Linked DNA regions of Homo sapiens. The protein of the gene in region 1 interacts with the protein of each later gene in a pairwise test. Each region holds a gene or a part of one and is shown in the gene's direction. Other genes may lie near its edges.

What was found. The genes of interacting proteins can lie anywhere in the genome.
Region 2: the proteins of YOD1 (region 1) and PLSCR4 interact in binary tests that used the Homo sapiens proteins (3 or more experiments, as listed by UniProt).
Region 3: the proteins of YOD1 (region 1) and ZFP57 interact in binary tests that used the Homo sapiens proteins (3 or more experiments, as listed by UniProt).

What each region holds. Positions count from the first base shown.
Region 1 is NC_000001.11:207,048,209-207,055,838, reverse strand, and holds the start of YOD1 (ubiquitin thioesterase OTU1), read left to right. Parts: upstream 1-4,630; 5' UTR 4,631-4,808; coding exon 4,809-5,151; intron 5,152-6,115; coding exon 6,116-6,819; 3' UTR 6,820-7,630. Other genes in the region: PFKFB2 (6-phosphofructo-2-kinase/fructose-2,6-bisphosphatase 2), read right to left, coding at 1,037-1,121. UniProt on the Homo sapiens protein: Hydrolase that can remove conjugated ubiquitin from proteins and participates in endoplasmic reticulum-associated degradation (ERAD) for misfolded lumenal proteins.
Region 2 is NC_000003.12:146,248,094-146,254,957, reverse strand, and holds the start of PLSCR4 (phospholipid scramblase 4), read left to right. Parts: upstream 1-3,852; 5' UTR 3,853-3,998; intron 3,999-4,320; exon of another isoform or gene 4,321-4,401; intron 4,402-6,864. UniProt on the Homo sapiens protein: Catalyzes metal ion-induced ATP-independent rapid bidirectional and non-specific movement of phospholipids (lipid scrambling or lipid flip-flop) between the inner and outer leaflet of the plasma membrane and participates in the redistribution of phospholipids between membrane leaflets.
Region 3 is NC_000006.12:29,678,141-29,685,419, reverse strand, and holds the start of ZFP57 (zinc finger protein 57 homolog), read left to right. Parts: upstream 1-4,267; 5' UTR 4,268-4,358; intron 4,359-7,279. UniProt on the Homo sapiens protein: Transcription regulator required to maintain maternal and paternal gene imprinting, a process by which gene expression is restricted in a parent of origin-specific manner by epigenetic modification of genomic DNA and chromatin, including DNA methylation.

The sequences.
Region 1 (7,630 bases):
CAGGCTCCATGGGTGCTAGGTGAAGAGAGATTATCATTGTCAATCATGAAACTGACAAGGGCATGACATCAAGGTCGAGGCTCTGGGAAAAGCTTTGAACATGAGATAATTCCTGGTCTCATGCTGGTCGGCTGTTTCCACCTGCTGAGATATATATATTCCTTGACTAACTGGCTATATATATATATATATATATAACCACTGAAGTGAGAAGAACTGACTGACAGGATTCTGCAGGAATGGTGCCATCCAGAAGCAGAGGCAAGAGTTAGCATTCCTTGAAGTTCCCCAAAATATGTGGGGAACAGAGTCCCAGATCTTTTGGGAAGCTATGCAGCCTATGATGCTTAGAAATACAGATGCTTGGGGACAGGAAATGATGCTTCATCTCCTCGCAAACCCTCCTGCTGTTTCTATCTAAAAGACAGGCATAGAAATGAAAATGCTCATGTGAAAGCTGTCCTCAAAAAAATGAACCTATAGGGAAAATAGTTTACAAAGTACAAAGGCTAAACCTGTGAGAAAGTAAGATGCCCAAGACACTGTGAGAAGCCAAGTGTCAGGGCTCATTCCCCTCAGGCCTGTAGGAAGGAAACCAAGCAGCACTGGCTCCCATCTGCAATTTCTACAATGAGCAGCACTCTCCCAAAACTTAGCCCAACAGATAAAGCTGGTAACATTACCAGCTCCAAGTAATTCCTGCACCTGCAACTGTGCCTTACTCATTGTGTGTACAATAATGTTAGTTCTAACTTCCATCAGCAAGCCAGTGTGCAAACATCCCAGGAGACAGAGATTCAGTTTAAGAAAGCAGTAAGAAACTGCTGGACTACACCAGTAGTCAAGCCCCAAGAACAGACATTTCACTAAGTCTACTTGTTTTAGACAGGACATTCTACCCTGGAGACTTTGCATTAAATTTCCATGTCAAATAATTATTTATCACTCCCACCAAGCAGCAGAGTCCAGGATTATAACTATATTCCCAAGATAAAATGCTGAGAGAGAGCAGTCCCTCCTCTCTGCCAGAACTCACAACATTTCTTCTCTGACATTCGAAGATTTGGGGTTTTGGTTTCATAGCTGTTGTTGTTCTGTTCTGAGGAAGATGCCCCAGACATGGCAGCTCTTCAGATGTCTGAAACAGAGAAGTAGAATGTAAAAAAGGGAAGGGGAAGAAAGAAGACATAACTTAAAAAAAGTCAGTGCATTGGATCCGTGTGGTATAAGTAAAAACACCCTGGGCCAAGAGGCAGGTTCAGTCCTGTTTCTCCCAGTTAGCAGCTACTTCTCTAGCCCTCTGTTTCCTCACCTATAAAAAGAGTTGCACTAGAACCTTACATTTATCTTCTGACTTACGAGTCTACATTTACAGACGTTATCTTCTTCAGTCCTAACAATAATCTTGTAATTAGGCAGATTTTGCCACCATTATTTCTTCTCATTTTACAGATTGAAAATTTGAGATTCATCGAATTAAGTGTCCTGCTCAAGGTTTCATGACCTCAGATTCTAGTTTTAAGAATCTGGGCAGAGTAGTGGCAGCAGTTGGGGTGGGGTGGGTTATGTATAGACGAAGTACATTACCAGGAAATTAACTCCAATCTAACGGTAGGACTCAGTTTTGCAAACAGTGAGGCCGGGCACGGTGGCTCACTCCTGGAATTCCAACACTTGGGGAGGCTGAGGCGGGCGGATCAAGAGGTCAAGAGATAGAGACCATCCTGGCCAACATGGTGAAACCTCGTCTCTACTAAAAATACAAAAATTAGCCGGGCCTGGTGGTGCGCGCCTGTAGTCCCAGCTACTCGGGAGGCTGAGGCAGGAGAATCGCTTGAACCCGGGAGGCGGAGGTTGCAGTGAGCCAAGATCCCGCCACTGCACTCCAGCCTAGCGACAGAGCGAGACTCTGTCAAAAAAAAAAAAAAAAAAAATGAAAAATGAAAAAGAAAGAAAGAAAAGAAAAAAGTGAGGGACGTGGGAAAATCTCGAACATATTCCCTGAAGGAAAAACAGTAACTGGACCCCAAGACAGCCCTAGCACGTCGTCATTTCTCCTCTAGTGCATTCTCAAGCCCTGCTCCGCACCCTCTCCCTAGTTACCCCCGGGACTCAGTCTAAAGAACGCCGGAGCGCTGAGGTGGTAAATGACTTCCCCAAGGTCACCTCAGGAAGAGGGGTAAGCCCTGATTCAAACTGGAGTGGGAAAGTCCTGAGCTCATGCCCCCAATTCAGACAACAGGGGGCTGGTGAGGACGGAAGATCCTGCGCCTTCAAGAGCCTTACACGATTCCTTTACTGACCACACAAATCCTCCAACCCAAACACAGACTGTGGCTCCCGGTCCCAGAACGTCCGCGCTGCCTGCCATGCCTGGGGACCAGCACCTCTCCCCGCACTTCATCCGGGGGCACGCAGCCCCCACATCCCGCCCCGCTAGACCCTACCCGGGGCTGCGCAGCTGTGGCTCACCCTACGATCTCTCCTAAGATCCCTCCCTGCCTTGGCCCCGGCGCCTGCCCTGTAACGCGACCGAACCGAGCCGACAGCTTGTGGCCGGGACCGGCGCTACAGTCGCCGGCAAATCATGTGAGCCCGTCTGGCCCCGCCCCCTCGCGCGTAGGTCCTCACCTGGAGAGAATCATCCACCAATCGGGCGCCTGCAGGACCCAGGGGGCGGGGCAGGGTCGCAATCGCCTAACTGGCTCGGGAAGGCGGCTGGAAGTCGGAACCAGAGAGATCACAAGCTCCTGAGTTTCCCAGCGCCGAGGAGCCTGGTGGCACTGTTGCTTGGTAACTAATAGGGCTGGGGGCGGTGTTAATAAAAAGCTTGACTTTTTTCTGACTCTCGCGAGAGTAGACTATTCGGTAGGCGTCTTGAGAGCGGGTGTGCCGGGTGACGAGAAAATGCTGCAAAGATTAACGCTCTCATTCCTGAATCCCAGCAGAACCTCATTAGATCCATAAATGGGAACGTAAGCTTTAAAGATGTTTTTGCTAGAATAAACTACCACAACACTTGAGCTAATTATGCCTTAGGGTGTATACATACCCGGCTCCACAGGTCAGACGCTGTGACCTAAGAAAATCAACCACTCTCATCGTTGAACCAGAAGCTTCCCTGGACCCACCCATACACCCCATTGGAGTTTTTTTTGTTTTGGTTTGGTTTGGTTTTTGTTTTTTGAGATGGAGTTTTGCTCTTGTTGCCCAGGCTGGAGTGCAATGGCACGACCTTGGCACCGCAACTTTTGCCTCCCGTGTTCAAGCGATTCTCCTGCCTCCCAGTATCTAGAATTAAAGGCATGGACCACCACGCCCAGCTAATTTTGTATTTTTAGTAGAGACGGGGTTTCTCCATATTGATGAGGCTGGTCTCGAACTTCTGACCTCGGGTGATTCACCCGCCTCGGCCTCCCAAAGTGCTGGGATTACAGGTGTGAGCCACTGCGCCCGGCCACCCCGGTGGACTTCTAACCACTCCTACCTTCCCTCCTACCTACCCCCTAACCCAGGCTGTATCATCCGTTGCAGTCGTCTTGAAGAACCAAGGAGGAAAATTGCACCAGCAAAAAAAAATTGAGTCATGAAAGATGTGAAAAGATGGAAACATTACATATAATTTATTCAGAAGCAAAGTCTTTTACAGTGGAGGTGAGTTTGCACCAAGTGAACTACACTTTTCATAGTTGCCCCAGCGGGCCCGTTTGATGCTTGATAAACCCACTCTTGGCAAGTGGGACTTGCTGTCTGAATCCCGGCTGGATAAAGAACAATGAGTATGGATTTCTTGGAAAAGAGAGATATAAATTCAGGGATGTCTTTATTCCTCCTTCGCCTGGGAATTAAACTAATTCTTCCAAAAGTTCAAACAGTTATCTCCTCTTTAAGGCTTTTTACAACTCCCAGAGTGCTCTAGTTGCCCTCTCTATGTCTATACAACTCTGTCTTTATTCATTCAGCCAGTATTTGTTGAACACTTTTTATTTGCGAGGCACAGTCCTGGGTTCTAGGCATACACGTTTGAAAAGGTACAGATAATCTAGCATTATCACGTTGCTTTGAAATTCAGTGGCTGTGTGTCTCACACCCCACCCTGTCTCCCAACTGCAATGAATACTTGTTACAATGAAGGCAGGAATGAAGTCTTCATATTTGTATGCCCAGGAACTGAACTGGAATCTGATGACACGCGTTACACGACTCCTCCTTACACTGCCACCACCTGAATGAGGCAGCTGCCCTGGGCCCAGATGCTGACCTCATACTGTGCTTTCTGAAGTGGCAAATAGACGTTTTCAAGCACAGTCCCAGGGAGGCAGAAAGGCCAGTCTTTTGGCCCCTGGAACCCCAATGAGTCAATGTTTAATGCAGCCACGAGTCTAGTCACAAGTGTGATTGTTTTTGACTGGTCCTTTGACTCACTGACCATTCCTGGCATTCGTTTGCGTTGTGAACTATGATTCTGTTTCTCCTGGTGTAGTCTGGGTGTAGTGTGGAAGCCCCAATTTAATAATTTCCGACCTCACTAAGTGCAAGGTCACATTCCAATCTCCAGACCTTCATTCAGGAACTCCTTCCCCCGCCCTCTTTTCTTGAGCATATATGCTACCCACGCGGAGGGCACCTCACTCGCTCTATAGGTAGCAAGACCCGTTGTCCTTTAGGAATACGGAGGTTTACATCTTCGTTCTGAGGGTGGGGGAAAAATCAGTTGTCACTTTAAAAGAGTTCGCGCTTGCTAAGGTACTAAGGCAGAAGCCGCACCGAAGCGTCGCGATAACTGCAACCACCCGCAACTTCTCGCGATGTTTGGCCCCGCTAAAGGTCGCCATTTTGGAGTCCACCCGGCGCCTGGTTTCCCCGGCGGCGTCTCCCAACAGGCTGCCGGGACCAAAGCTGGCCCCGCGGGTGCCTGGCCTGTGGGCAGCCGGACCGACACGATGTGGCGGCTCCGCTGCAAGGCCAAGGACGGCACCCATGTTTTGCAGGGGCTGTCCAGCCGGACCCGGGTGCGGGAACTCCAGGGCCAAATTGCCGCCATCACCGGGATCGCCCCCGGCGGTCAGCGAATCCTCGTCGGATACCCTCCCGAGTGCCTGGATCTCAGCAATGGGGATACCATTCTGGAAGACTTGCCCATCCAATCTGGTAAGGAATCAGGGCTGGGGCCAGGGAAAGTCCCGGGAGGATGGAGAGGGGCGTGAGAGAGAACAAAACACCAGTCAAGGCAAGGTGGCTGTGAGTCGGCGGGGGGGCTTTGAGGCCAGGGGCGAGGATAGATCAAAGAACAGAGAATGCTGACGGGGGCCAGGGCAAGTGTCTAGCAACTCCTTGTCTTGACACAGGGTTGAAAGGGAACCCAAAGCCTTGAAGACCCCCTTCCCCATTCCGCTTTCTGGTCGGCTTTGAAACTATCCCATTTTGTTTTCCCTCGGCGTCCACAAAAATATAAAGTAGGGCCTATTTTCTCTGTCCTTATGTCTCTTTTTCCCTATATCACCGATGAGATCTCAAGGGTGCAGGATTTTTTTTTTCTTGATTCATTTTTGCAGTCCCCTTCGTAGATACTTCGTTTGACAGGCATACTCATTTTCGAGTTAGCTTTTAAAACACCCACTGAAAGCTCTTTCAATTTCTAACCAGCAGCAGTTATTTCTGTGCCATATCAAAACTTGAACATCAGTGTTTATAATTAAAAGCTTTCAGTTGCTGTATCAAGGATGTTGTAAACACTCTAGAGTAGATAAGTTTCCGGAGAAGGAGAACCCCCTAGCGGCCTACTCTGTAGTGAGCACCTTCTGTAAAATACTGTATAAGGAAAGGAAATTTTGTTTTTGAAATGTATCTTTTTAGGTAAGCTTGAAGTTGTTTACTCCAGACCCCTTCACTAAATTGGGATGCAACCTCAAGTGTTTTTTGTTCTTTTTTCATCTTTATGAAAATTCAGTGAACAAAGATTCTTACTGGTAACTTACTTGCAAAACTGTATTCTCCTTAGTAACCCCAGTTTATGCTTTAACTCCTTCAGTTTGTAATTTACAGACTTGGCTAGAGAACACTCGGTTTCTTCTGTAATTTCTTTGCAGATCGGGATTTGTTTTATTTTTAACAGGTGACATGCTGATCATTGAAGAAGACCAAACCAGGCCCAGAAGTTCACCTGCATTTACTAAACGTGGTGCTTCTAGTTACGTCAGGGAAACTTTGCCTGTGCTTACCAGAACCGTGGTCCCAGCAGACAACTCTTGCCTCTTTACTAGTGTGTACTATGTCGTCGAAGGAGGAGTCTTGAATCCAGCTTGTGCCCCTGAGATGAGACGCCTCATAGCACAAATTGTAGCAAGCGATCCAGACTTCTATAGTGAGGCAATACTGGGAAAAACAAATCAAGAGTACTGTGACTGGATCAAAAGGGATGACACTTGGGGAGGAGCAATAGAGATATCGATTTTGTCCAAGTTTTACCAATGTGAAATATGTGTAGTGGATACACAGACAGTAAGAATTGATCGTTTTGGGGAAGATGCAGGATATACCAAAAGGGTTCTGCTTATTTATGATGGCATCCACTATGATCCACTTCAGCGTAACTTCCCTGATCCAGATACACCTCCTCTGACCATTTTCTCCTCTAATGATGATATTGTTCTTGTACAAGCACTGGAATTAGCAGATGAAGCTAGAAGAAGGAGACAGTTTACTGATGTCAACCGCTTCACCCTGAGATGCATGGTATGTCAGAAAGGATTAACTGGACAAGCAGAAGCAAGGGAACATGCCAAGGAGACAGGCCATACCAACTTTGGAGAAGTGTGACCTATGCATGAATGAGGGTTGAAGCCTACTACCTCACACATCCAGAAGGCTCTGGGTTTTCCAATAAGCTATGGTAACCCTAAAGAACAAAGGATACAATGCTTGAACCATCCTTTTAACTTAAAACCACTAAGACACTGAAATTCCTTGTTAAGATTAAAATTAGTGTGCAAGTTTACAGATGTGTGTCTACAGTGGTAAACTGTACATACATGCCTCTTTCTGCTGGAGTGACAGAATAGGTGATCCTTGCCACCTACTGACACTGACCTGAAGGTTGAGATTGAGTATTATAAACTAGCACCCAGCAGCTTTAACTTGTAGAAGAAAGCATCACATTTTGGGTAATGTGGAAGGCCTCCTGTGAGTCCACTGGGCATACGATTGAGATTGAGTATTATAAACTAGCACCCAGCAGCTTTAACTTGTAGAAGAAAGCATCACATTTTGGGTAATGTGGAAGGCCTCCTGTGAGTCCACTGGACATTTACCACAGTGTCTCCAGTAACTGAGTCTTTTTAAAAACTCTGAATGAGTTAAGTTTCTAAATTATGAATTGATTCATCAAATGAAGATACTCAGAATTGTCCAAACTGATTTTATATTGCAATTTGGTAGACATTATAAATGTGTGCTTAACCACTGATAAGTACATCACAAGCAATTTTTACAGGGATGAGTCTCATCCTTGAGAATGTTATCACAAAACAGGAACTGATTGTGCCCTGTTTAAGATCTCTAGCATATAAAACGTAGAATGTATGAGGGAATAGGTGCCTGAGCAGCTTCCTGAAGCTTTAAAAGACCGTTG
Region 2 (6,864 bases), on another chromosome or scaffold:
AGAAAAGAGGTTTAATTGGCTCTGCAGGCTGTACAGGTTTAAATGGTTCTGCAGGCTGCACAGGAAGCACAGTGATACCATCTGCCTCTAGTGAGGCATCAAGAAGCTTACAATCACGGCAGAAAGCAAACGGGGAGCAGGTGTATTAATGGCAAGAGCTGGAGTGAGACAGAGAGGGGAGAGGACACACTCTTTTAAATAACCAGATCTCACAGGAACTACCAGAGCAAGAACACACTCATCACTAAGGCAATGGCACTAAGCCATTCACAGGAGATTCTCCCTTATAATCCAAACACCTCCCAACAGGCCACCTTTAACACTGGGGATTACATTTCAACATGAAATTTGGGAGGGACACAGATCCAAACCTTATCAAACAGTTATTATAAGTTAAAAAGTTAAGAAAATGATGGTCTTAGTGAATGAACAGATGTGAAATCTCATCAAAAGACATGGAAGCTGCACAAATGAACCAAATAGAAATACTAGCACTGAAAAGTGTTAATACTGTAATGGACTTAACAGTAGATTGAAATAAGGGTCAGCATATTTTTGAGACGGATCCATAGAAATTATTTAACTTAAAGAGAAAAAAATCAAAAAAATGTAAATAAAGTCTTGGTGAGCTGTGAGTCAGTATCATATGGTCCAACATACAATTAATTGAACTGAATTTCCAGAAGGAGAAGAGAGAGAAATGGGTATGGTGCAGTAAAGAAATAATGACTGCAAGTTTTTCAAATTTTGTGAATAATATCTACTTATGTATCTGTGAAACTCAGAAAACCACAGTAGAATACAGAAAGAAGCATACATCATAGACTAACTGCAGAAAAACCAATGATAAAAAGTTATTCTTAAAACCAACAATATGCATTCTGTCAGATAAAAATGGAGGTCAAAATTGTTGGGGAATAAAATAAAAAAAATCTGTACACCCAGAATTCTATAACCAGTAAAAATATCATTACAAAATTCATACAAAATAAAAACATTTTTAGATTTAAAAATCTAAAAAGATTTTGTCTGTAGCTGTTCTGCACTACAAGAAATACTAAAGGGACTAGGTATAGTGGCTCACACCTGTATCCCAGCACTTTGGTAGGTCAAGGCAGGCAGACTGCTTGAATCCAGGAGTTTTAGACCAGTCCATGTAACAAAGCCAAATCTTGTCTCCCCCCTCCAAAAAAAAAAAAAAAAATTAGCTGGGCATGGTGGCATGTGCCTGTAATCTCAGCTACTTGGGACGCTGAGGTGGAAGAATCACCTGAGCCCAGGAGGTCGAGGCCGCAGTGGGCTGAGGTTGTGCCACTGTACTCCAGCCTAGGCAACCAGAGTGAGACACTGTCTCAAAAATAACAAGAACTACTATAGGAAAGTCTCTAGCCTGAAGGTAAGTGATAATAGGTGAAATTAAGATCTATAAGAAAAAAAACGAGGAGCACAGGAAATTGTGTATATGTGGAAATATAGAAAAGCTATTTTCTTCTTTTAATTTCTGTAAAAGACAATGCACTAGTTAAGCAAAACTTAAAACATTTTGTTGTGTAAAGTCTATAATTAATGGGTATGTAAAATCTGATAGCATTTGCACATACAATTGAGGAACTGTAAAGTAATTATAAATTTCTTAACTTTATGTGAAGTGGTACATTATTAACTCTAAGTAGACTGTGGTAACCTAAGAACAACCAGTGAAAAGGAAATAACACGAAGAAATACACTTGGAGCAACAGAGCAACTAAAATGGGATTAGTATAAAAAGTAGTTAATTTGTCATCCCTCGAAATGTCCAGGTTGGAAAGTCATCAGATCAGGAAATTTCAGAAAAACAGGAAATTGAGTTCTTCTTCTTCCCCTCGAAAGTTGTGATTTGGGGTATATGACATACTTGATTTTATTTTAATCCCTCAAAGCAATATGTTTCACAAGACATGTTTTGCTCTTGAAATTTTTGGTATCTTCACGTGGCCACTGTGGATGTTTACATTCATAAGCTCAATTACTTGGCCTCTTTCATAAATTTTAAACAAAGGTAACATGCCGAGACCAGCTCAGTCGGGGAGACCCTAACCCAGCGGCGCTAGAGGAATTAAAGACACACACACAGAAATATAGAGGTGTCAAGTGGGAAATCAGGGGTGTCATAGCCTTCAGAGCTGACACCCCCGAACAGAGATTTACCCACGTATTAACAGCAAACCAGTCATTAGCATTGTTTCTATAGATGTTAAATTAACTAAAAGTATCCCTTAAGGGAAACGAAGGGATGGGCCGGATTAACTGCAGCAGGAACACGCCCTTAAGACACAGACCGCTCATGCTCATTGTTTGTGGCTTAACAATGCCTTTAAGCGGTTTTCGCCCTGAGCGGGCCAGGTGTTCCTCACCCTCACTCCCGTAAACCCACAACCTTCCAGCTTGGGCATTAGGGCCATTATGAACATGTTACAGTGCTGCAGAGATTTTGTTTATGGCCAGTCTTGGGGCCAGTTTATGGCCAGATTTTGGGGGGCTTGCTCCCAACAGTAACATATGCTATTATAATTTAGTTTCACCACCAGTTTCTTTGTTTTATGCTTTCAGTAAAACACTATGTCTGCATCTGAGAAATGTTCTGTGCAATTATTACTGAGAAGAACAGTATGAATTTTTTAATCTATTCTCACATGAATATTAACAAATAACACACATACAAAGAAAAATATAAAATTCTAGAACTCCACTCCCACATCCCTTCCCCTTTCCAACCTTCTCCCACAATGGGGTTCTGCCAAGTACTCCTCAGAGCTTAATCAAGCTTACTTCTGTCCAGTTCTGATTCTTTATAAGGTCAGAGGACCTTCAGTTCTCCCACTTCCTGTCAGTGTATTGTGCTTCTCTCCAAGCACCACCACAGAACTGAATCCCATTGGTCTGAAAGAAATATTTGTGCCTAACAGTAATAAGCAAATGGCATTTTTCTCCCAATGTCAGAAAACATGGGCAACCTGCTCCCTTTCCCCTTTATTGGCGTCTCTCCCGCCTTCCCTCCAAGATCAAATTGGCCTCCCCCAATTCTGTGGAAAAGAAAACAGAATTTCTGGGCCCTATGCCCAAGTGTTTCCAGCCAGCACGGCATTGCCAAGGCTAAATCACCAAGCCAAGGACCTGGGGGTGGGCGCAAATGCAAATCAAAAAGGCTCTTGAGGCCGGGTGCAGTGGCTCACGCCTGTAATCCCAGCACTTTTGGAGGCCGAGGCGGGCGGATCACGAGGTCAGGAGATCGAAACCATCCTGGCTAACACGGTGAAACCCCGTCTCTAGTAAAAAATACAAAAAATTAGCCGGGCGTGGTGGCGGGCGCCTGTAGTCCCAGCTGCTAGGGAGGCTGAGGCAGGAGAATGGCCTGAACCTGGGAGGCGGAGCTTGCAGTGAGCCGAGATCGCGCCACTGCACTCCAGCCTGGGCGACAGAGTGAGACTCCGTATCAAAAATAAAAATAAAAAAATAAAAAAGGCTCTTGAGAAAGAGGGGTTTCTTCATTTTCTCTCTAGGCGCAGTAATCTATGAACAAAGCTCCCTTTCCCAGGCCCTGCAACCTGCCCCTCTGATTGGAAGTGACCGTGGGCTGGCTTTTATCTTTTCTTTCACCTCTTATTAGAGTAGTGACAACTTATTTTCTTCATTTCTTCCTCCCCCTCGGCTTTTAGGTTTCAGCGGACTTCAGGGTGCCCCACCTCTTCCAGGAAGACGCTCCCCCGGGCTGGCGGCTCTCCCAGCGCGGGGCGGGGTCCGAGACGGGGAAGCCGCGCGCGGGGAAGGAGGGTCCAGGCGTGCCGGACCCGCCCCCAGAACCCGCGCCTAGCCCTCCCTTCCGCGCGCTTACTTTGTTTATAACTTGAAAAATCCTCTCCGTCTCCCTTCCCTGCCTCCTTTCCTTTCCCTTTCCTCTGCCAGTACAACTAGACCCGGCGTCTGGCGTCCCCGGTGCCCAGCATTCTGCGGGGCAGGCGGTGAGTGGGGCTGGACAGGCGGGCGCAGAGCAGGACAGGGTGGCGCGGGCGCCCGGGCTGCGGGGCCGAGGGCGTCGTCAGGGGAGGCCCGAGGCCGCGGTGCCTGCGGGCAGGCGCGGAGGTTGCGCGGCGTCCTGCGCTAGCAGTTCCCGGACACTGCGCTCGCGTCGCATCCTCAGGTGGTTGCAGAAGTTCCGTGGTGTCGGGCGCGCGTCTGCACTGCAGACGCAGAGGGTTTGGGAGCGAGCAGTTTCCTGCCCAGGGATGGGGGTCCTGGCTGCACTTCACGGGGGCGGCCCTTTCGTTTCGCTCTGCGTGACAGGTCTCGCTTGATTGGGTTTCTCATGGGTCTCTGGCGTTTCTACGGCGCGGCTCTCACGGACTCAGGCCAGGCCACTCGCAGGTAAAAACGCTATTTATAGTAACTTTTTAATTGCTCAGCGAGTGGAGGCGGTGACAGGAGAGAATCCCTCTCTCTTATTTCCAATTCTGGCAAACTGGGGCGATTTGGGGCTGTGCTTGATTTGTTTTTAAAAACGTTCATATTTAAAGACTTAGGATTTTATTTTGTGGCCTTATCTTCTCTTAGGATCTACAATTTAGTTTTTAATTTTATACTGCATTTAGAATGGAGCCACCAAAATAAGTACTTGTGAAGATATAATGCACCAAACTTGATACTGCTTAAAGGGGAATAGATTGCCTAATTTAAATTGCATTCTCCTGTAATAGTAATAGAACACAACCTCCATCTGTCTATCTGCTCTCATGGATAGCTGTGAAATACTAGCAGCATTTCCATTAAATTTGAAAAAGACAAGAATGCTAATCATTACACTCTGTGACATGGTTGTGAATTCTATGGGCGAGTGACAACAGGTAGGGGAACATATTATCACTTTATGCATGATGTGAGTGTATACCTTAATGTCCATAGGAAACACTGAAATTTGATGGGAAGCATAAGTGAATTTATCAAAGTTTCCAATTGCATCATACTTAATTTATAGAAGTCAGTTGATGTTTATACATAAACTAGATAATACAGTAAAATAAAGTAAAATTCAGTTTGGCATGAAATAACACACAATTGAGAAATTATTTTTAAGAAGATATAAAAAGGTATGTATGAGAATCCAATAAAATACATAACATTCTTCTAGGTAAAGATATCATTTCTCTAAAACAACGTATAAGTAGAATCCTAACTGAATATTTTTGTTACTGTTTTTAACTGTACTGTTTAGCTCATGTGGAAGAACAAACATATTAACGTTATGTATAATATATTACAAATAATAAAATACAAAATATATAATTATGTCTTATTTTATATATTATATATGATTTTAACATTTAATATTATACATACACACATATATATAGTGGAGACTTCTTCATATAATAAAAGGTGTTACAAAACTGTGGTGATTAAAAGACAGTGCAGTAGACCTACTACCAGATGTGTAAATGAAACTGAAGAGACATGGAAGAATAAAAGGAAAGCTGGCATTTGATAAGCATACATTTTAAATCACTGGGTGGGAAGAAGAAATAACATTTAATTGAATGTACTTGGACAAGCAGGAATTTGTTTGGGAAACCTAATAATAAAACTGGAACTTTTCCTCACTGTTAATAGACAAATGTAGTCTAGATGGCTTACTAGTTTAAATCTAAACATATGCAGCCTAAAAAGGGAAAAAGAAAGCCTGAATAGATATTTGTGCACATTGCATGTGGGAAAAGCATTTCTAAGCATAATACAAAAACCTAGACCCATTTAGGGACATGATTTTTATTAACATTTGCATCCCCCAAAAAAGATACAAACTGCGGACATTGTTAATAGAAAAAAAAAGATAATTTTGCTAATATACCTAGAAATCTTATTAATGACCTTCAAAATCAATGACCCAGTTAAGGATAAAAAGAGTCAACTCAAAGCAAAAGAAATGCAAATAATAAGCAGAGTGAATACTGTTAGCCACACTAATTATCCAAAACATATATGAAGTAAGACATCAATTTTTGCATTAATTTTACAAATTTTGAAAGTCTGATAACTTTAGGTGTTGTTGAAAATGCAGTGAGGAAAATATAATTTTACAAACTTTTAGTGGAAATGTGAATTGGTGAAGCTGTTTTAGGGTTAAAGCTGTTCAGATTTACAAATGTTCATTTACTTAACTGGAATTTATCCAGCAAAACATGCTCCCAAGTGTACAAATAAAAATCTCTGTCAAAGATGTTTAAAGTAGGATTGTTTACAATGTAGAAAACATGGATACAGCTCTGTAGCCATTGATTGGGAATTGGTTACATAATGTATGGTATATTCAAAGGTGGAATAATATACAGTTTAAAACATTGTAGCTCTAAATGTTCTAACTTGGAAATATGTCCAAAACATAAAGTTAAAACACAAAATGAAACAACAAGTTGAAACACTGTGTGTGTGTGTGTGTGTCTGTGTGTGTGTAGTGTAGTAATTATATTTTTGTAAATAATTTGGAATATAGGCTGAATTATATTGTGAGTAGTGATGTTTTACACACAGCCGAATTATATTATTATGAGTAGTGATGTTGTTTTACACATTTCTATAATGTATGCGTGTGTATAAGGAAAAATTGATAGTGATAGTAATTTATACAGAACATTGCCTTCTTGAATATATTAGCTGTCATTTACTACAGAAGAAATATATTTCACAAAACCTTTCATATTGTCTCATTTTTTTTCTTTTATAAGTGTCCTCTTTCAGCTGCTTCCTTTAAAATCCCCTTCCTTAATATTGATGTTTATGATGTTTATTGCAAGAACAGCAGTGAAGAATTTTGCTTGAGGGATTTCACAACCAGTT
Region 3 (7,279 bases), on another chromosome or scaffold:
CTTACAGAGATAGTATAATGCGCTTACACACGAAGAAAGGGAAGAAGACAAGGGGAGAAGAAGTGATTATAGGAATTAGGTTCCTGTTTCCTTGCTAGCTGTCAACCAAGGGTTGCTCTCAGCTTCTGGAAGTTACCTGCATTCTTTTGCTCATGGCCACCTCCATCTTGAAACACAGCCATGGTACACTGAATACTTCTTTTGCTTTGAATCTTCCCAACTTCTCTTTGATCTTTGTTTTTTCTGCCCCTTAAGGAGTTCATGTGGTTAGATCAGGCCCAACCAGATAACCTGTTTTATGGTCAATTGTCTTGGGACTTCAATTACAACAGCATAATCCCTACATAGTGGTGCAGATGGTCCCTGATTTACGATGGCTCAACTTACAGTTTTTCAACTTTATGATGATGTGAAAGCAACACACATTCAGTATAAACTGTACTTTGAATTTTGATATTTTCCTGGGTTAGAGAGTATGATACTCTGTGACGGTGCTGGACAGCAGTAGTGAGCTGCAGCTCCCATCAGCCACACAATTATGATGGTAACAACTGATACTGTACTCTATACTGTACTGTATGCAACCAGTTACATGAGATAGTCAACACTTTATCATACAAGGGGATTTGTGTTAAGTGATTTTGCCCAACTGTAGGCAAATGTGTTCTGAGCACATTTAAGGTAGGCTAGGCTGAGCTAATATATTCAGTAGGTTAGGTGCATTAAATACATTTTCCACTTGAAAATATTTTTCAGTTACAATGGTTTTATTGAAACATAACCCCATTTTAAATTGAAGAGCATCTGTACTTTGATTAGTATTTGACTGAATAACCAGGGGAAGCAATCTTGAGGGGGAAAGCATCTTTAGAATTCTGCCTATCACAGTACCTTGGGGGACTACTGCAAATGAATGTATCCCATTAGAACTTCTCTACACCTCTAATCACCTTTTGTCTTAAAGTGGCTGAGGTGAGATAAAGGGATCTAAAGGGATTGGGAGCATGGAGGGAGAAACAAGTTCTGTTCCATTAAAGTCACGCATTTACTTTCAGTTTCTTTCTGCATGGCAAGCTTTCAGTGTTCTCAGCCCACCCAATACTTTATATTGGGCAGAAACATCCTGATGGCTGATGCCATCAGTTTTGGCCTTGGATCTAGCACCCACAGCCATAGGCTCTGGCTGAGTCCATGGGGTTTGCACCTTCAGGCTGACTTGAGCTTGACTTGCACAGGGGTAACCTTGAATGAGGAGGATTCCATCCATTACCAAGTTAACATTTTTAAAGTTCTCATCAGGTTTCAACATAAGGGCTAGGGGAATTTTTCAGAGGAACAGGGCTGACTGCAAGCATTTATTTACATTTCTTTAGGTCAGTTTGTTTTTCATCAATGGATCGCCTTCGTCAGTACGGTAACACCAACCCAGAGTACTAAGAGGCTGAATATGCACTTGATTTCCCATAGTACTTTGTCTCAGGGAAATCTTACCTAGAGGACCAAATCTTCCTGATGGCAGTCAGGGCTCACTGCGATGAAAATATGAGACCTTTTACTGTTGCCTACAAATGGATCTAAGGTTGGGCTCGCAGACTGCAGAAGGTGCTGATCTGTAAGGCAGCACAGTTGTTGCCATTCTTTCTTAACAAGCATTGACATGCTACCTCCTTATACCCTCAAGGTCTCAACTCCCAGATGATCCAGCTAAAGTGTAATGATTTGTTTGGCTCTGCCAATAGCTATTGTTAATTTCCCTCCTTTCACATTCACTGTGCGTCTCTGTAATTTTCTGCGGAAAAATTGCAGATACTAGGATGAAATAACTTTTGTCAGACCCAGATAAAATAGGGCCAGGCCAGGCACGGTGGCTTACGCTTGTAATCCCAGCACTTTGGGAGGCCGAGGCGAGCGGATCACCTGAGGTCAGGAGTTCGAGACCAGCCTGGCCTACATAGTGAAACCCCCATCTCTACTAAAAGTACAAAAATTAGTCGGACGTGCTGGCATGTGGTTGTAATCCCAGCTACTGGGGAGGCTGAGGCACGAGAATTGCTTGAACCTGGGAGGTGGAGGTTGCAGTGAGCCAAGATCACACCATTGCACGCTAGCCTAGGTGAAGAAGCGAGACTCTGTCTCAAAAAAAAAAAAAAAAAAAAAAAAGGCCAGGAAGGCATGAAGGAGAGGAACGTCATGCTTACATGTTTGAAGTAAGAATTGTTAAGTTGGGCGTGGTAGCTCATGCCTGTAATCCCAGCACTTTGGGAGGCCGAGGTGGGTGGATCACCTGAGGTTGGGAGTTCGAGAACAGCCTGACCAACATGGAGAAACCCCATCTCTACTAAAAATACAAAATTAGCCAAGCATGGTGGTGCATGCCTGTAATCCCAGCTACTAGGGAGGCTGAGGCAGGAGAATCGCTTGAACCCGGGAGGCGGAGGTTGCGGTGAGCCGAGATCATGCCATTGCACTCTAGCCTGGGCAACAAGAGCAAAACTCTGTATCGAAAAAAAAAAAAAAGGAAAAGAAAAGAATTGTTTCAAAGGACTTTTTAAAAACTCCACAAGAAATCTTTTCTAGGGAGTGGGGAGGGATAGCATTAGGAGATATATCTAATGTTAAATGATGAGTTATGGGTGCAGCACACCAACATGGCACATGTATACATATGTAACTAACCGGCATGTTGTGCATATGTACCCTAAAACTTACAGTATAATTAAAAAAAAAAAAGAAAAAAGAAAGAAATCTTTTCTAGCCGGGCGCGGTGGCTCACGCCTGTAATCCCAGCACTTTGGGAGGCTGAGGCAGGCAGATCATGAGGTCAGGAGTTTGAGACCAGCCTGACCAACATGGTGAAACCCTGTGTGTACTAAAAAAAAAAAAAAAAAAAAAAAAATTAACCGGGTATGGTGGCACGCACCTGTAATCCCAGCTACTCAGGAGTTGGAGGTTGCAGTGAGCTGAGATGGCGCCACTGCACTCCAGCCGGGGCAACAGAGCGAGACTCTGTCTCAAAAAAATAAAAATAAAAAAATAAAAGAAATCTTTTCTTCATCCTTCATGAATGTCCTGTCACAAGGTTTATCAGCAGGCATTCTTTTTTTTTGTTCTGTTTAGAAATAGGGCCTCACTCCATTGCCAAGGCTGGAATGCAGTGGTGCAATCATAGCTCACTGTAACCTCAAACTCCTGAGCTCAAGCAATCCTCCCACCTCAACCTCCTAAGCACCTAGGACTAAAGGCATGTACCACAACACCTGGCCAAGTTGTTTTCATTTTTTCTAGAGAAAGGGTCTTGCTATGTTGCCCAGGTTGGTCTTGAACTCCTGGCCTCCAGCAATCCTCCCTCCTCAGCTTCCCAAAGTGTTAGCATTCCAGGAGTGAGCCACGGGGGCCCAGCCTAGACATTCTTTAGTACTATAGTAATTCAGATAAGATGCTCTTGAAAGAACACTTGCCCAGTAACGGCAATGTCTCCCAAGTAGCTGGGATTACAGGTGTGCGTCACCACCACCGGCTAACTTTTGTATTTTTAATAGGGACAAGGTTTCGCCATATTGGCCACGCTGAGGTCGAACTTCTGACCTCAGGTGATCCGCCCCCTCAGCCTCCCAAAGTGCTGGGATTACAGGTGTGAGCCACCGCTCTCAGCCGCGTGTTTTAATCATAATACTTTGGTCTTTTTTTTTTTTTTTCGTAAATACTTTCCTCTTTTTTTTTTTTTTTTTTTTTTTTGAGATGGAGTTTCACTCTTTTTGCCCAGGCTGGAGTGCAGTGGCGTGATCTGGGCTCACTGCAACCTCCACCTCCCGGATTCAAGCGATTCTCCTGCCTCAGCCTCCTGAGTAGCTGGGGTTACAGGCGCCCGCCACCACGCCTGGCTAATTTTTGTACTTTTAGTAGAGACGAGGTTTCGCCATGTTGGCCAGGGTGGTCTTGAACTCCTGACTTCAGGTAATTCACCAGCCTCGACCTCCCAAAGTGCCGGAATTACAGGTGTGAGCAATCGCGCCCAGGCTTTTTTTTCTTCTTCTTTTAGAGTCAATTAAGACTGGGAAAGCGAAAATCCTAGCGCTACTTGGGACCAGCAGCTATCAGTTGGTCGGAGGCTCGAAGTGGTGGTGCATGGCCGGGCTGTCTGTGATTCTTAGGATGGGAAGCTTGACCTTGGCGGGCTCACCCTCTCATCTGGGTCAAGGGGCACATTCTCGGTGGCCTGATGACTGGGAGGGAGCGGAAGAGGGCGGGGCCGGGGTGGGGCCGCGGCGCCGGGACTGCGGGTGCTCGGCCGGAGCGCTCCAGCCGCTGGTCCCCGGGAGACCCTGTGCCCCTAAATCGCGGTCCACTGCGCGCGTCAGGTGAGTAGAGCGGCGGCGGGGAGTCGCGCTAGCGGTAGTAGAGGCTGATGTTGGATGTTGTCCCCACTCCTCTGACTCTTCCGCAGGCCAGGGGAGCACTGCGCCCCTAATCTTGGAGGGGCTTCCAACCTCTGGGGTCCTCCGGGGAAACGTGGGTTAGTCTGGGGTGTATCCAGGTGCCCTGTCCACTGTGGGCACTCTGGGGATTCCGGGCCGAGGAAGGGCTCCTGGCACGTGTTGAAAAAGTCGGCATCCCAGAAGGAAGATTCTGGGCGGATGGGCATCGGGGAAGGTAGTCCCAACCAATGGGACCGTTTCTGAGCACATAAGCGCATTCAGTGGGTGCTAACAAGCGCCTGCTTTGCCAGGCGACAGTGAGCAAAACCGGCTTTGTTCCCGGCCACCGGAAGCTTCGAGGCTGGGGTTCCGGATCTGGGCGCCCAATGACAAACTAAGCGCGGAGGACAGGGCCAGGAGCGCCCACCAGGGCGGCGATCTGGTGGGTAGGTGCAGGGCAATGGCTGGAAAGGGTCCCCGAAGCCCTGAGCAGAGACCAAAGGGCCGTGCGACTGCAGGAAGGCCATTTTGCTTGGCTGACAGGCGGAAAACTCACGTGGCTGGAGTAGCAGGGTTGGTGACGACAAGGGTGAATCCCACTAAGCATTGCAACTGTTTGCGGTGTGAGGGGTGAGGGGGATTCTCATCATTCTCAGAATTGCTGTGGATAAAGGGTTTTGGGTTGGAGAGAGACTGGGTGCACTCAAAGGACTGAAAGATGGCGACGACACATTCCCTCAGAGGATTTACATTCTGGAAGGGTGGGGACAGGCCCGGGTACAGATAAGCCCGCAGGCGGCCTCCAGCTCTTACAGTCGAAAGTCTGATGAGTTATGCCCAGTCTCCTTCCTCCTCCCGCCGGCATGAGGTTTGGGGCCCTGTGGATGAAGGAAGTTCATGGGAGGCAAACGTGCCTGGGCAAGCAACAGCCGCAGAGATTCAGTCCCCACGGGGGTTAGAATCCACACTTAGGGCCTCTGCCTACCGCCTCCAGCAAATGCCATCTTGAGGACTAGCGGCAGCAGTAGGTCTTCTCTGCCAGAGAACTGGAAGGCCAGGTTCTTGAGGGCACTGTTACTAAGGCGTTTTTTTTTGTTTGTTTGTTTGTTTGTTTGTTTTTGAGACGGAGTTTCACTCTCATTTCCCTGGCTGGAGTGCAATGGCGCGATCTCCGCTCACCGCAACCTCTGCCTCCCGGGTTCAAGCGATTCTCCTGCCTCAGCCTCCCTAGTAGCTACGATTACAGGCATGCGCCACCACGCCGGGATAATTTTGTATTTTTAGTAGAGACGAGGTCCATGTTGGTCAGGCTGGTCTCAAACTCCTGACCTCAGGTGATCCGCCCGCCTCGGCCTCCCCAAGTGTTGGGATTACAGGCTGAGCCACCGTGCCCAGCCTTATTAAGGCTGTTTTGAAGTGCAGTTGGCTGGAAAGTGGAAGAATAATCCAAGATCTGCATGCCTCATAAAAGGAGTGCGAATGGTTTTGAAAGACAGGAAAGGAAAGGGAGAGAGAGGAAAGAAAGAGAGAGGAAGAAAGGAAGGAAATCAAATTCATATCCCAGGAATGCACCTTTCATGACAACATTTTGGAGATCCAATTAACTCTATTCCTCGAGGGCGTTTTTCCTTGCTGGTATTTTCAGTTCTATTAACACTTCTCAAAAAGTGAAAGGAAAAAATAGTCAACAGGGTTTTTTGGTCTTTATTCTTTTCTTTCTATCTCTAGTAAGGGAGATGTGGGTGAGTGGCTGTCAGCAGGAAAAGGTGAGAGTTCAGCTATGTTTGCATCTGAGCAGGAAATTTCCAAGGATGAGCAGGGAACTCCAGTGCTGGGCTCATTGTGAGCCCTGAATAAGTGATTGCTCTTGGGTTGTTAGCAGTATTCTTCACAAAGATCTGTATATACAGTGGTTCCCCTTATCCACAGGTGATATGTTCCAAGAGCTCTAGTGGATACTTTGTTTTTGTTGTTGTTTGAGGCAGAATCTCGCTCTGTCACCCAGGCTGGAGTACAGTGGCACAGTCTTGGCTCACTGCAACCTTCACCTCACGGGTTCAAGTAATTCTGCCTCAGCATCCTGAGCAGCTGGGACTACAGCGTGCCACCACGCCCAGCTAATTTTTGTATTTTCAGTAGAGACGGGGTTTCACCATGTTGGCCAGGCTGGTCTCAAATTCCTGCCCTGAAGTGATCCACCGCGCCCCACCCCAGTGGATACTTTGAAACCATGAATAGTACCAAACCCTGTATACACTATGGTTTTCTTTTTCTATACATACATAATAATGATAAAGTTTAATTTACAAATTAGGCATGGTAAGAGATTGACAACAATAACTAGTAATAAGATAGAACAATTACAGCAATATATTGTAATAAAAGTTGTATGAATGTGGTATCTCTCTCAAAATAATTTATATTGTAAATCTTAGCAACCTCAGCATATGATTATTTTTTCTTTCCTTAAGACAAGAATTTTTACCTTTTTATTTTATGGCTTCTCTTTGCATATCTGAATTTCCAGCGTCTCTACTCTTGTGCTTTTGGGTCATTATTAAGTAAAATAAGGCATTCTTGAGCACAGGCAACTGCTATACTACAGTAGTCAACCTGGTAACTGAGATGGCTAGCTACTAAGGAACTAATGGGCAGGTATTGTCTGCAGTGTGGATATGCTAGTCAAAGGGATGATTCACATCCTGGGCAGGCCAGAGAGAAAAGGTACAAGATTTCATCACACTACTCAGAATGTCAAGCAATTTAAAACTTAGGAATTGTTTATCTCTGGATTTTTTTTTGAGACGGAGTCTCGCTCTATGTCCCAGGCTGGAGTGCAGTGGCGCAGTCTTGGCTCATGGCAA